Linked DNA regions of Homo sapiens: region 2 is linked to region 1. The links come from fine-mapping of genetic effects on gene expression. A gene starts in region 1. The other region holds a variant in brackets. All regions are shown on one strand. Distances are between the middles of the regions.

Region 1 (5,000 bases):
TATAGAAAACCATTTCTGTACTGCTACTAATAAAAATAACAGTAGAGAACAGTGATCAATGGCACTTGACACTAGTTCCCAGTAAAGGGAGAAAACAGAAAGTGGTAAGGACAAATTAGATAGCACTAGTCCTTTTAAGAGGCAGCTGCTCAGCTCTAGTCAATTATAGCCTTGAAAGAATGCAGGGGCTAGTAGCGCCAAATCTTTGGAATTGTTAAAGAGAAGCCAAACACCTACATTTTGTTACTTGGTTTCTCTTGCTCAAAAATAAACAAACAAATAATCAGGCTGATAACTTACAGAGTCACAGCTGGGTGCAGTGGCTCACACCTGTAATCCCAGCATTTTGGGAAGCTGAGGTGTTAGGATCACTTGAGGCCAGCTTGGGCAACGGAGCAGACCTCATCTCTATTATTTATTTATTTAGGACAGAGTCTCCCTCCATCACCCAGGCTGGAGTGCAATGGCACGATCACAGCTCACTATAACCTCCACCTCTCAGGTCAAGCGATTCTCCCGTGTCAGCCTCCTGAGTAGCTGGGATTATAGGCGTGTGCCACCACACCTGGCTAATTTTTGTATTTTTAGTAGAAGCAGGGTTTTGCCATGTTGAGCAGGCTGGTCTGGAACTCCTGACCTCAGGTGATCCACCTGCCTAGGCCTCCCGAAGTGCTGGGATTACAGGCATGAGCCACCGTGCCTGGCCATATTTTTTTAAATAATAATAATAATAAAAGAAAAGTAATGAAGATCTCAGGCAGAGTGGTGGTAAAAGGAATGGAAAGGAGAGCATGGGTGCAAGAACATTACAGAAGTGGAATTTATAGGACTTGTTCAAGTAGATATTGAGGGATGGAAGCAGACTAAGATGTATCTGGGGTTTTAAGCCTGGGTGGTGCCATCAACCAAAATAGATGGAAAGAGGATCACTTGAGCTCAGGAGTTCAAGACCAGCCCAGGCAACATAGTGAGACCCTGTCTCTTAAAAACAGAAAAAGAAAAAAAAAAATTACAGATTCACAACCCCTACTATTCTGTATCAAGCCTTTTCTCATAGATTCTGATTCACAAATTTAGCTTACAGTAATTTCCTGGGGAAGTGAAACAATTTAATAAATGTTTTTGAGATGCTGTACTGGACCAGACTTCACTTTCTTTCTTTTTCTTTTTTCTTTCTCATTTTTTTTGAGATGGAGTCACACTCTGTCGCCCAGGCTGGAGTGCAAGTGGTGTGATCTCAGTCCACTGCAACCTGCAACCTCCACCTCCTGGGTTCAAGCGATTCTCCTGCCCCAGTCTCCCCAGTAGCTGGGATTACAGGCGCCCGCCACCACGGCCGGCTAATTTTTGTATTTTTAGTGGAGACAGGATTTCGCCATTTTGCCCAGGCTGGTCTCAAACTCCTGACCTCAAGTGATCCACCAGCCTCGGCCTCTGGGATTAAAGGCATGAGCCACCGCGCCCTGCCCATACTTCACTTTCTGATCCTCCTCCACACATAGGTCATGTGTCCACTTGGAAACGATCAAACACTAGTCATGTCCCAAAGGATGGGTTATCAAATCCTCAGACCAAACTAATAGGTCCCTAAATCTGCAGGTCACTCCCCGTTCCTCAATTTCATTTCTCTTTATCCCGGTAAACACATCTTCTGCTTTAGCCAAACACACTGCTTGCACATACCACCTCATTCGCTAGTTGTATCATCTCCCCCTTTTCCACCAATAATTCCCTTCACAACCCTGCTCAAAATACACTTTCCCCAAGGAAGCACTTCTTGATTACTGTTGCTGGATATGAACTCTTTTTTGTTATTGTTTTCTCATTAGTCTATGTTACAGAGGCCTGCAGAGTTGTATTTTCTTTCTCTCCCATTCATGGCCTCCCCCAACTTCCAACAGGCCTGTCTCAGGGCATGCAGGGTAGGAAGGGAGCTGCAGACTGATGCTGCTAACCATCTCCCAGGCCTCCTGGGCCAAACCGCACCCGAATCAACCCAGACCCCGCCTCACCCGTCAGTTCCCCAGTCAGGTAAGTGGCCATTTTGGAGAACATGTCCCGGCAGAGCTCAGTGATGTCAGCTTCAGCAGGCTCCTTTGCTTCCTCAGCTGTCTCCACGGCGGCATCGTCTGGGCCAAGGGAGAATGACTAAGTGTCCCGCCTACACCCGGTGCTAATCCAGCCAAAGCAGCCTGTTCCGACATCCCTCCACTTGCCTTCATTCCATCAAGTCGGCTCCATTCTCCATCTGCCATAATTTCAAGTCCTTCACTGCGTCCCTGCCCATCTGACACATCAACTCGCCTCCCTCGCACCGCCCCTCGCCCATACCCGGCACCCCCGCTCATCCTGGCACCATCCCAGTCACCCTGACAGGACAAACACTCGCGCGCAGCGACAAGTGCACTCCTCTCACCAGCCCGTTCCTGCCAGGTGAGCCACCACACACTCAACCTCGCCCACCCGAGACGGAGCCCCAGGCCCCCCACCGGACGCTTCCTCCCCATCCATTCCGGGTACCTCGGGCGGGCTCATCACTCCGGGTCGCCAGTACGCCCTCGGCTGCCGCCGCCATAGCGGACCCCGCGCTGTTTCCGGGCCGGGGTGCTGCGCATGCGCACTGGGTGTGCCCCGCCCACCCGGCCGGCCCTGCAGTCCTGCGCCTAGCGGTCCAGTCCAGCCTCAGGTCTATGACACAGCAAAGGGCGATTCCGGAGCCGAAATTGAAGCTACGCCAGGCTGTTGTGAATTGATCCACTGCCAACAGTCGCGACGTCTGGGACTGAGGGCGAGCTCATCCCTACAGTCACACCCTGGAGGGATCACTCATCTTGTACCACTCACGACCCGTCTGGGAATAGTCAACCCTGTTTGTGGCCTGCTGACCAAAACCACTGAAGACGGATTGCCCGCTCTCCTGACACTCCGCACTGGAGTTAGTCATCAAAAGATTGCTCAGGGAATCCAAAGTTTTACAGGTTGTCTCGTCCACACTTTGGGAAACCTTCAGGCATTGATCCCTGGTCCTAAATACTGTCCCTCCCAATGTCCTGAGTTAACACCAACTCACTGGCCCCTATTTCTTAAACTGCAGGCAGGCATCTACTTCTCTTCAGTTGATACAGCCTTCCTTGAAGAAAGCTTAGACTGTAACTTTTTTAGGGCTGAGGATACACTCTGGTTATCTTAATTGCATTTAAGCTGTTTCACAAGCCTCCTAGGTGTACAGAGTACTTAATGGGATGGGAGAACAGGAGTGAGTGAAAGAGATGGATGAGAAGAAGTGACTGGGGAGCAATTGAAGGTGCAAAATGAGGAGGGATAAAGGCCACAGAAGAAGGGATAGGAGATATTCAGCAGGCCTCAGGCAGGCTCCTGGACACCCAAAATCTTGGTAGTTTCTTTTCTTATCCCTGGTTATCCTCCCTCTGCACCCTCTCACCCCACCCCGATGCCAGTACATACACACACACGCCAGCTACCCCTTATCCCCAGCCCTCCTACCCTGACTGTCTCCACCCTGAGGACTGAGTCTCACTTGTCACCTGTCCCCACTTTTCCTATGGTGCAACCATAGTAGCCACTATTTCAAGCCATTCCTGCGAGCCAGAAGTTCTTTTTTTTGAAACAGAGTCTCGCTCTGTCACCCAGGCTGGAGTACAGTAACGTGATCTCGGCTCAGCTCACTGCAACCTCCACCTCCCGAGTTCAAACGATTCTCATGCCTCAGCCTCCCAAGTAGCTGGGATAACAGGCACGCGCCACCACACCTGGCTAATTTGTTTGTATTTTTATTAAAGACAGGATTTCAGCATTTTGCCCAGGCTTGTCTGGAACTTCTGGCCTCAAGTGATCCACCCAACATAGCCTCCCAAAGTGCTGGGATTACAAGCGTGAGTCACTGTGCTAGGCCTAGAAGTTCTTATAGCCCAGCTCCTTCACATCACTGCACCTACTCTATACCTCCTAGAGAGCATGAACCTATTCCAGCCCAGGCACATGGATGACCCACAATTTCAGCCTTTCTTCCCTCTATAATACCAGAAGCAAATGCAAAGTCCAAGTTTTCCTAAGGAGTTTTATTGATAGCCACCATGGAAACCCACATGGTCTTATGGAAGAATAATGTCAGAACCCACCACATATTAATTCAAAGATCTCTGAATCCTGAGTTCATTTCCTTGCCTGATTCCCTTCAGGCTCCATTTTTATCTCCTGGTTAAAGCCCACTCAGTTTCCAGGTTCAGTGGACCAGGAGGCAGCCTCTTGCAGAAGATCCTTCATAGACTTTGCTCCGGGAGTGCCTCACACTTAACTCCTCTGCAACGTTGGAATCTCACCACGGGAGAGTCTCCTCTCCTCTAAGGCTTCCTCTTCTCTTTTATAGGGAACCTCTGTGGGGGAAAACGAGAAACCCATGGGTGCTAGCAACAAATCTTGGGATGCACAAAGGATAAGAATAGGATTCACTGGGAAGTAGGAAGACATCTAGATACCGCCTACTCTCTTGGTTTCTACCTTTTTCACAGACCATGGCTATCCAGGTGCTTAGGAAGAGCCATTACCCTCCCTCTCTTTATCCTGTTTGTTAACTTTTTTTTTTTTAATTAACACACAGAGCTAAGTACACAGGGAGTAAAAGGCCCAGTGGAAGACGTTATTTCACAGAGCTATGTGGCAACACACAGAAACACTGATTCACAAGCCTAAGCATGATGCCCACCACACACAGAAACATTGGCTCAAAAGGCCAGATGCAGGGTGGGGCTCAGCAGCAGCCATGATGGGACCTGTTGTCCTAGAAGTGCAGGGGATGTGGCGAGGGGGCCTGTGCGGAGGCAGAGGGAGGGAAGCCTGCTGTCTGATGCTTTAGGCCCCCTTCCTCACCACTCTCCTGCCCACCCTGGACTCCCCAGGGGTCTGGGGTCACAGCTGGGGCTGGCTGCGGGTGCTTCCAAATAGCTTGTTCCTTCTGTTGGAAGAAGAAAGGGACAAATCAT
Region 2 (5,536 bases), 88 kb before region 1:
CCTAAACAAATGCTATCACTGTGTATCTGTGGTATCTGATTCATTAGCCAGAAAACTGGGAGTCAGAATTTTTTTTTTGAAATGGAGTCTAGCTCTGTCACCCAGGCTAGAGTGCAGTGGCACAGTCTTGGTTCACTGCAACCTCTGCCTCCCTGGTTCAAGCAATTCTCCTGCCTCAGCCTCCAAAGTGGCTGGGATTACAGGCATGTGCCACGACGCCTGGCCCAGAAATATTGATTAAAGAAAAAGAATTGGACTTGCTCTATTTGAAATCTTAGATTTTAATATTTTACTCTAGCTACAACTTCTATCACTTAAATCACTATTTGTTAACATCTTCAACCTTTTTATCCTCTTATTCCATCAGCAAAATCCTAACCTTGGATTAATCCAACCATCTGCTCTATCAGTTCCTGTATCCAAGCTACTAAATTATCAACAAAAAATTAATATTACTGTTCACTATTTGTCACTGCTAATTCACAGGTTTTTCATTTCTGCTCTGGGTTTTTTTTTTTTTTTTTTTTAAGAAAGTCTTGCTCTGTCAACCCAGGCTGAAGTGCAGTAGTGTAATCTTGGCTCACTGCAGCCTCGACCTCCTGGGCCTCAAGCGATCCTGCTACTTCAGCCTCCTGAGTAGCTGGGACTACAGGCATACACTACCACACCCAGCTTTTTAAAAATTTTATTGATTTATTTTTTTGTAGAGACAGGGTCTCACTATGTTGCCCAGACTGGTCTCAAACTGTTGGCCTCAAACGATCCTCCTGTCTCAGCCTCCCAAAGCGCTAGTATCACAGGTATGAGCCACCTGGCCTGGATTCTTAATGAATGTTTTGGGTCAACAACATCTTCCACTGCACACAGTGGCTTTTAGAAGTCTTTAGCACTCTATTCAAATCTATGAGGTCGTCACCTCTTCCATTTCAGTTAACCTCACTTACCACTGCAGGATAAGAGGCCATAAGGCAGTAAGACCCTGATCTTCCAACCTCTACTCCCAAAAAAGTATCTGTATCCACACTCATTCTCTTTCCAATATCAATAGTATCAAGGCTAATCCCTCCTACTGTTCTTTGGAGCCAATCTCTCAACTTGTTCAGGGACCTCCCTCTCCACAGGCTTTTTTGGCCCTGAGCATATGTTCTGAGAAGTGCATCATTGGGCACTTTCGTCACTGTGTGAATACTTATACAAACCCTGATGGTACAGCCTGCTATACACTTAAGCTGTATGGTATAGCCTTTTGACAATAGGCTACATACCTGTTCAGCAAGTGACTGTACTGAATACTGTAGGCAACTGTAACACAATGGTAAGTATTTGTGCATGTAAACATAGAAAATACATAGTAAAAATACAGTAGTATAATCTTATGGGACTACCATAGTATACACAATTTGTTGTTAACCAAAACATCATCATGTGGCACCTCATGTTTAAGTCTTCCTTCTGAGAAGTGACCTCCCTTGACTCTACATCAACTTTTAGCTACTCACCCACCTCTCTTCTTTCCTGAGCAGCCAAGCTTCTGAGAATAGTCTAGATAAGCAGTTCTCAAACTTTTTGGTCTCAGGACCCCTTTACACTAGAAAATTCTTGAGAACCCCAAAGGGTTTTTCAGGAATTAAACAGAAATTTAAAAATACTCGTGTCTTAATTCATTTAAAAATAACAAACCTATTGCCCATTAACATGTTTTTATTAAAAACAAACAAAAAAACCTATATTTACGTTTTCTCTCTCTCCTATATTTAGGTTTTCTCTCTCCTGAAACTCTACACTCCAGTCATACTGCATTTCCTCAGACATGCTAAGTGCTATACATACATGTGTCTACACAGTATACTCATATCTACGAGAGCCACCTCCTTTCACTGGTTACTGCTACTTGAGATACTTGGAAGCCTGAAGTGGAAGGATCACTTGAACCCAGGGAGTCCAAGGCCAGCCTGGTCAACATAGCAAGAGCCCACCTCTAAAAACAAAAACCAAAAAACGATATTTTCTAAAACAAAAAAATTTGAGTGAGAACACTTGCACTGTTTTACATTTTTGCAAACCTTTCTGATATCACCACTAATCTCATCAGAAAAGTTTTTAAGTACTGAGAAGCTGTCATTCCAGCTGGTAAATACAAGTTTTCTAAAATTCTTTTTGCTTGAAACATGGAATTTTATCATTGACAACAAATACTGCTTTTTTCCCTTAAAGTAATAAGTGTGCTATACTTTTTATTTTCATTTAATTTCTTAGAAATTATCTCACGTATGCAAATCTGAATAATCATAGTTTGCCTGACAGTTGCTCTTCCAAGTAAAAATGGTATCTTCCCTGAAAGAGGCCAGACAACTAGCAACGTAAACAATTACTGAAGTGGTTTTCCTTAAGACAACCATCATACTTCACTGTATAGAAGAAACACTTTATGAGTACTTCCCATTTCATCACACAAAATATTAAAAACCCATACTCAAGCGTTGAGATTTAAATAAAATAATATTTTTACTGCTTTATCAAGGACATTTGTAAGTGAAACTGTCATTTTTTAAAAACTGTGACTGCATGGTGGTAAAAAATATAACGGCTACTAGCATAGTTTGGCGCTAGTGCCTTGATTCATACTAAGGTGAAAGCCATTTTATGTTGCACCATCAATGAAAATGTCAACATGGTGAAAAATGCAAATAACATCTTATTATGAAAATGGTTCTAACCTCACAGACTCTCTGACAAAGTTTCAAGGATTCTCACAGGTCCATATGCCACATTTTGAGAACTGCTGGTCAGACTAAACTGAATACATTTCAGTAAAATAAAAGCAGTATAAGAGGAGATAATGTTATTTTTTAAATGTGAAAATAGTATATGAAATACAATTTCACATGTATATTAATTTGCATGTGTTGCTATGTGTCTACAAATTTTAAAGTGTAAAAGTATATCTTTTTTTAACATGCATTTAAGTATAATGCACATTAGGGCACAGACTTTATTTCTTCTGTTACCCTTCAAAACAAATTTTTAACTAAATGATAATATCTTGCAAGTACATAATAGTTTATAGTTTTCAAAGCATTTTCACAAACATCCTCTTAAATACACTGTCACAATATACTCACTGAGTAGGAAAG[C/T]TAGGTTTCAACCCCATTTTGCAGAAGAAGGAAATGGGAAACGCAGATTTGCCTGAGGTAACGGTCAGTAAATTACTCAATCTAGAATTCAAGCCTCTGATTCCCCATCCAGTACTCTTTCCAGCAGACCTTGCTCAGTATTTAGCAGATGTTCAACTGGAATTATTTTGCCAACAAAACAAGTCATCAGTGACCAGTGCAGATGAAGGCATTATTTTCAAAGCAATCTGCTTTGGCCTAGAACAGCACAGGCCTTCCCTCTAACCATTCCATACCTGAACCCACTGCCTCAAATTCTTTCCAACCTCTATAATATTTTTTTGTTTTGTTTTGAGACAGAATCTCGCTCTGTCACCCAGGCTGGAGTGCAGTGGTGTGATCTTGGCTCACTGCAACCTCCTCTTCCCAGGTTCAAGCGATTCTCCTGCCTCATCCTCCCAAGTAGCTGGGATTACAGGCACATGCCAACATGCCCAGCTAACTTTTCTATTTTTAGTAGAGATGGGGTTTCACCATGTTGGCCAAGCTGGTTTTGAACTCCTGACCTCAGGTGATCCACCCACCTTGGCCTCCCAAAGTGCTGGGATTACAGGCATGAGCCACCACAACTGGCCCAACCTCTCTAATCTTAAGCAACACTTATTTTTTCCATCTTTCTAAACATTTTCTTGCTGCTTTTTCCTCTCTGAGTTCCTTTTTTCTGTCTTCCATTCTTTCTTTTCACGTCCCCTTCTAAAATTTTTCTACCTCACGTTCTCTGTTACTTTCTCTTTATCATCTCCTAAATTCTCACAATCTTAAAGCTTATTATACCATGTCTCAATGGCAATACCAAAACTGGAATTTATTCTGCAGCTTTAAGAAAATTTTTAACTTAAAAATATTAGATCCCCCACATTTGTTAGGCTAGTGATAGTTACCTAAAATGCCTTCAAGCACTGTGGTAGAAGTGTCTTACCTGAAGGTCTGTGTTTTAACTGCTTATATAGATCAATGGCACGCTGTTCCCTATAAAAGAGAAAACACGCTCTGATAAGTGAAGGTAATTTAATGACTTCAATAATCTACAACTTGAAACAATATTTTATTTGAATAATGAACCCATTTTAAAGCAAGTTCATATTGCCAACAAGTATTTCACAGAGCATTGTATTGAGTAATAAGAACTATACAAGTTCTTAAAATGCAAAGTTTAATATAGTTCATATCTATTCTGATCTATCATGGGGACATCTCTGCACCACAGACACTTAAAAAGACAAAAATTATGACCTATAATTCGAGAAAATATCTGAAGTTTTTAATCCAGAACTTTAATTCAGAAAAAATTTCAAGTTTTAGGGCATTTAAGAGTCAATACCTTGGACCAGAGGTATAATGAGTAGGGAAATAGTTTGTAACTTAGTTATACTTGGAAAATTCTTAACACTCCTATGAAATAAATGCTTTTATTAAAAACCAAAAAAGGCCAACCCAAAGAATTATTTCCGAAGTTTCCTGTGACTGAGAAAAAGCTTCCATTTTAAATATAATGCCAATATATTTGGGGAAAGGAAAACTATAGAAAAGAACCACTAGAGGTTTAATTTGCCAGATGTAAGCAGAAAGAATACAAAATATTACAGATGTCAAGACCAACAACACAAGTGCATCCTTACAGAGATTCCATCAAGTCTCCCTGACGTCTTCCATAGGGGCTCTTCTGTAGCTCCATGATTTCAGCATGCAAAGACATAATCTGATCCTCCAGGTATCCAATGACACCAACCTAAAATATGATGAAAATACAAAGGAAATGAAAGGCTTACCACTACATCATAGGAAACAAAATTCAGATCTTAAGGATACAGAATGACTTGCTGCTTCATTAGAGAACTAAATAATATAATACGAAACACTGATTTTGTTAAAGCCTTTCTATTCTTCAGATTCTGACACTTAATCTTTCACATAAGAACATACTTAGTCTTAGTCTTCTCTCTTTTCTCTCCTGACAACAGTAAACTACTAGTATTTGCTTTTACCTCCGGAGAAGCAAAAAGCTACAACAGGTATCAACTAACAAGAAAGAAAAAGGACCACCAAAACCATTGGTATTACTTGTATCTTGGCTCTATGATTTTGACTGCCCCCTGGTCCCCACTACCTTGAATAGGGACACAAAAAGATAAAGAACTTGGATTTCCCACCCCAGGACACCATGGGTATCCCCACCCACATCCTCAGGGTAAGTACTGACATTAAGGAGTGTAATAACTTAGGACCGTGGACAAATGTACAGGATAAGGGGAAAAAATCTGCCACCTAGAGAATGAGCTATACCTAGGGACACCATATAATTTATTGTCCAAACCGGCATAATTTTGAGAGTGAAAGGGACTACTACTGATAATTATGGCAAG

Direction of the effects. Alleles are on the strand shown, and positions count from the first base shown. SD is a standard deviation of normalised expression in the study named.
In carriers of allele C in region 2, the expression in follicular helper T cells of the gene that starts at base 2,596 in region 1 tends to be higher than with T alone (large effect, 1.1 SD a copy in Schmiedel 2018).

Evidence for each region. PIP is the estimated chance that this variant, and not a neighbour inherited with it, causes the effect.
Region 2: its variant is fine-mapped to the expression of BLOC1S2 in follicular helper T cells (Schmiedel 2018, PIP 0.93).

What each region holds. Positions count from the first base shown.
Region 1 is chr10:100,284,085-100,289,084 of GRCh38, forward strand. It overlaps BLOC1S2 (biogenesis of lysosomal organelles complex 1 subunit 2), which reads right to left and starts at 2,596. Exons shown (of 5, transcript NM_173809.5): 1 at 2,521-2,596; 2 at 2,013-2,129. The coding sequence starts at 2,575. It overlaps PKD2L1 (polycystin 2 like 1, transient receptor potential cation channel), which reads right to left. Exons shown (of 16, transcript NM_016112.3): 15 at 4,888-4,972; 16 at 4,065-4,394. The coding sequence ends at 4,312. RefSeq lists enhancers at 1,830-2,337, 1,923-2,222 and a silencer at 2,513-2,712.
Region 2 is chr10:100,195,879-100,201,414 of GRCh38, forward strand. It overlaps CHUK (component of inhibitor of nuclear factor kappa B kinase complex), which reads right to left. Exons shown (of 21, transcript NM_001278.5): 15 at 4,793-4,902; 16 at 4,093-4,142. Among named protein-coding and RNA genes, the nearest start is that of ERLIN1, 13 kb to the left of the region's middle. The variant C/T (reference allele first, on the strand shown) is at 3,135.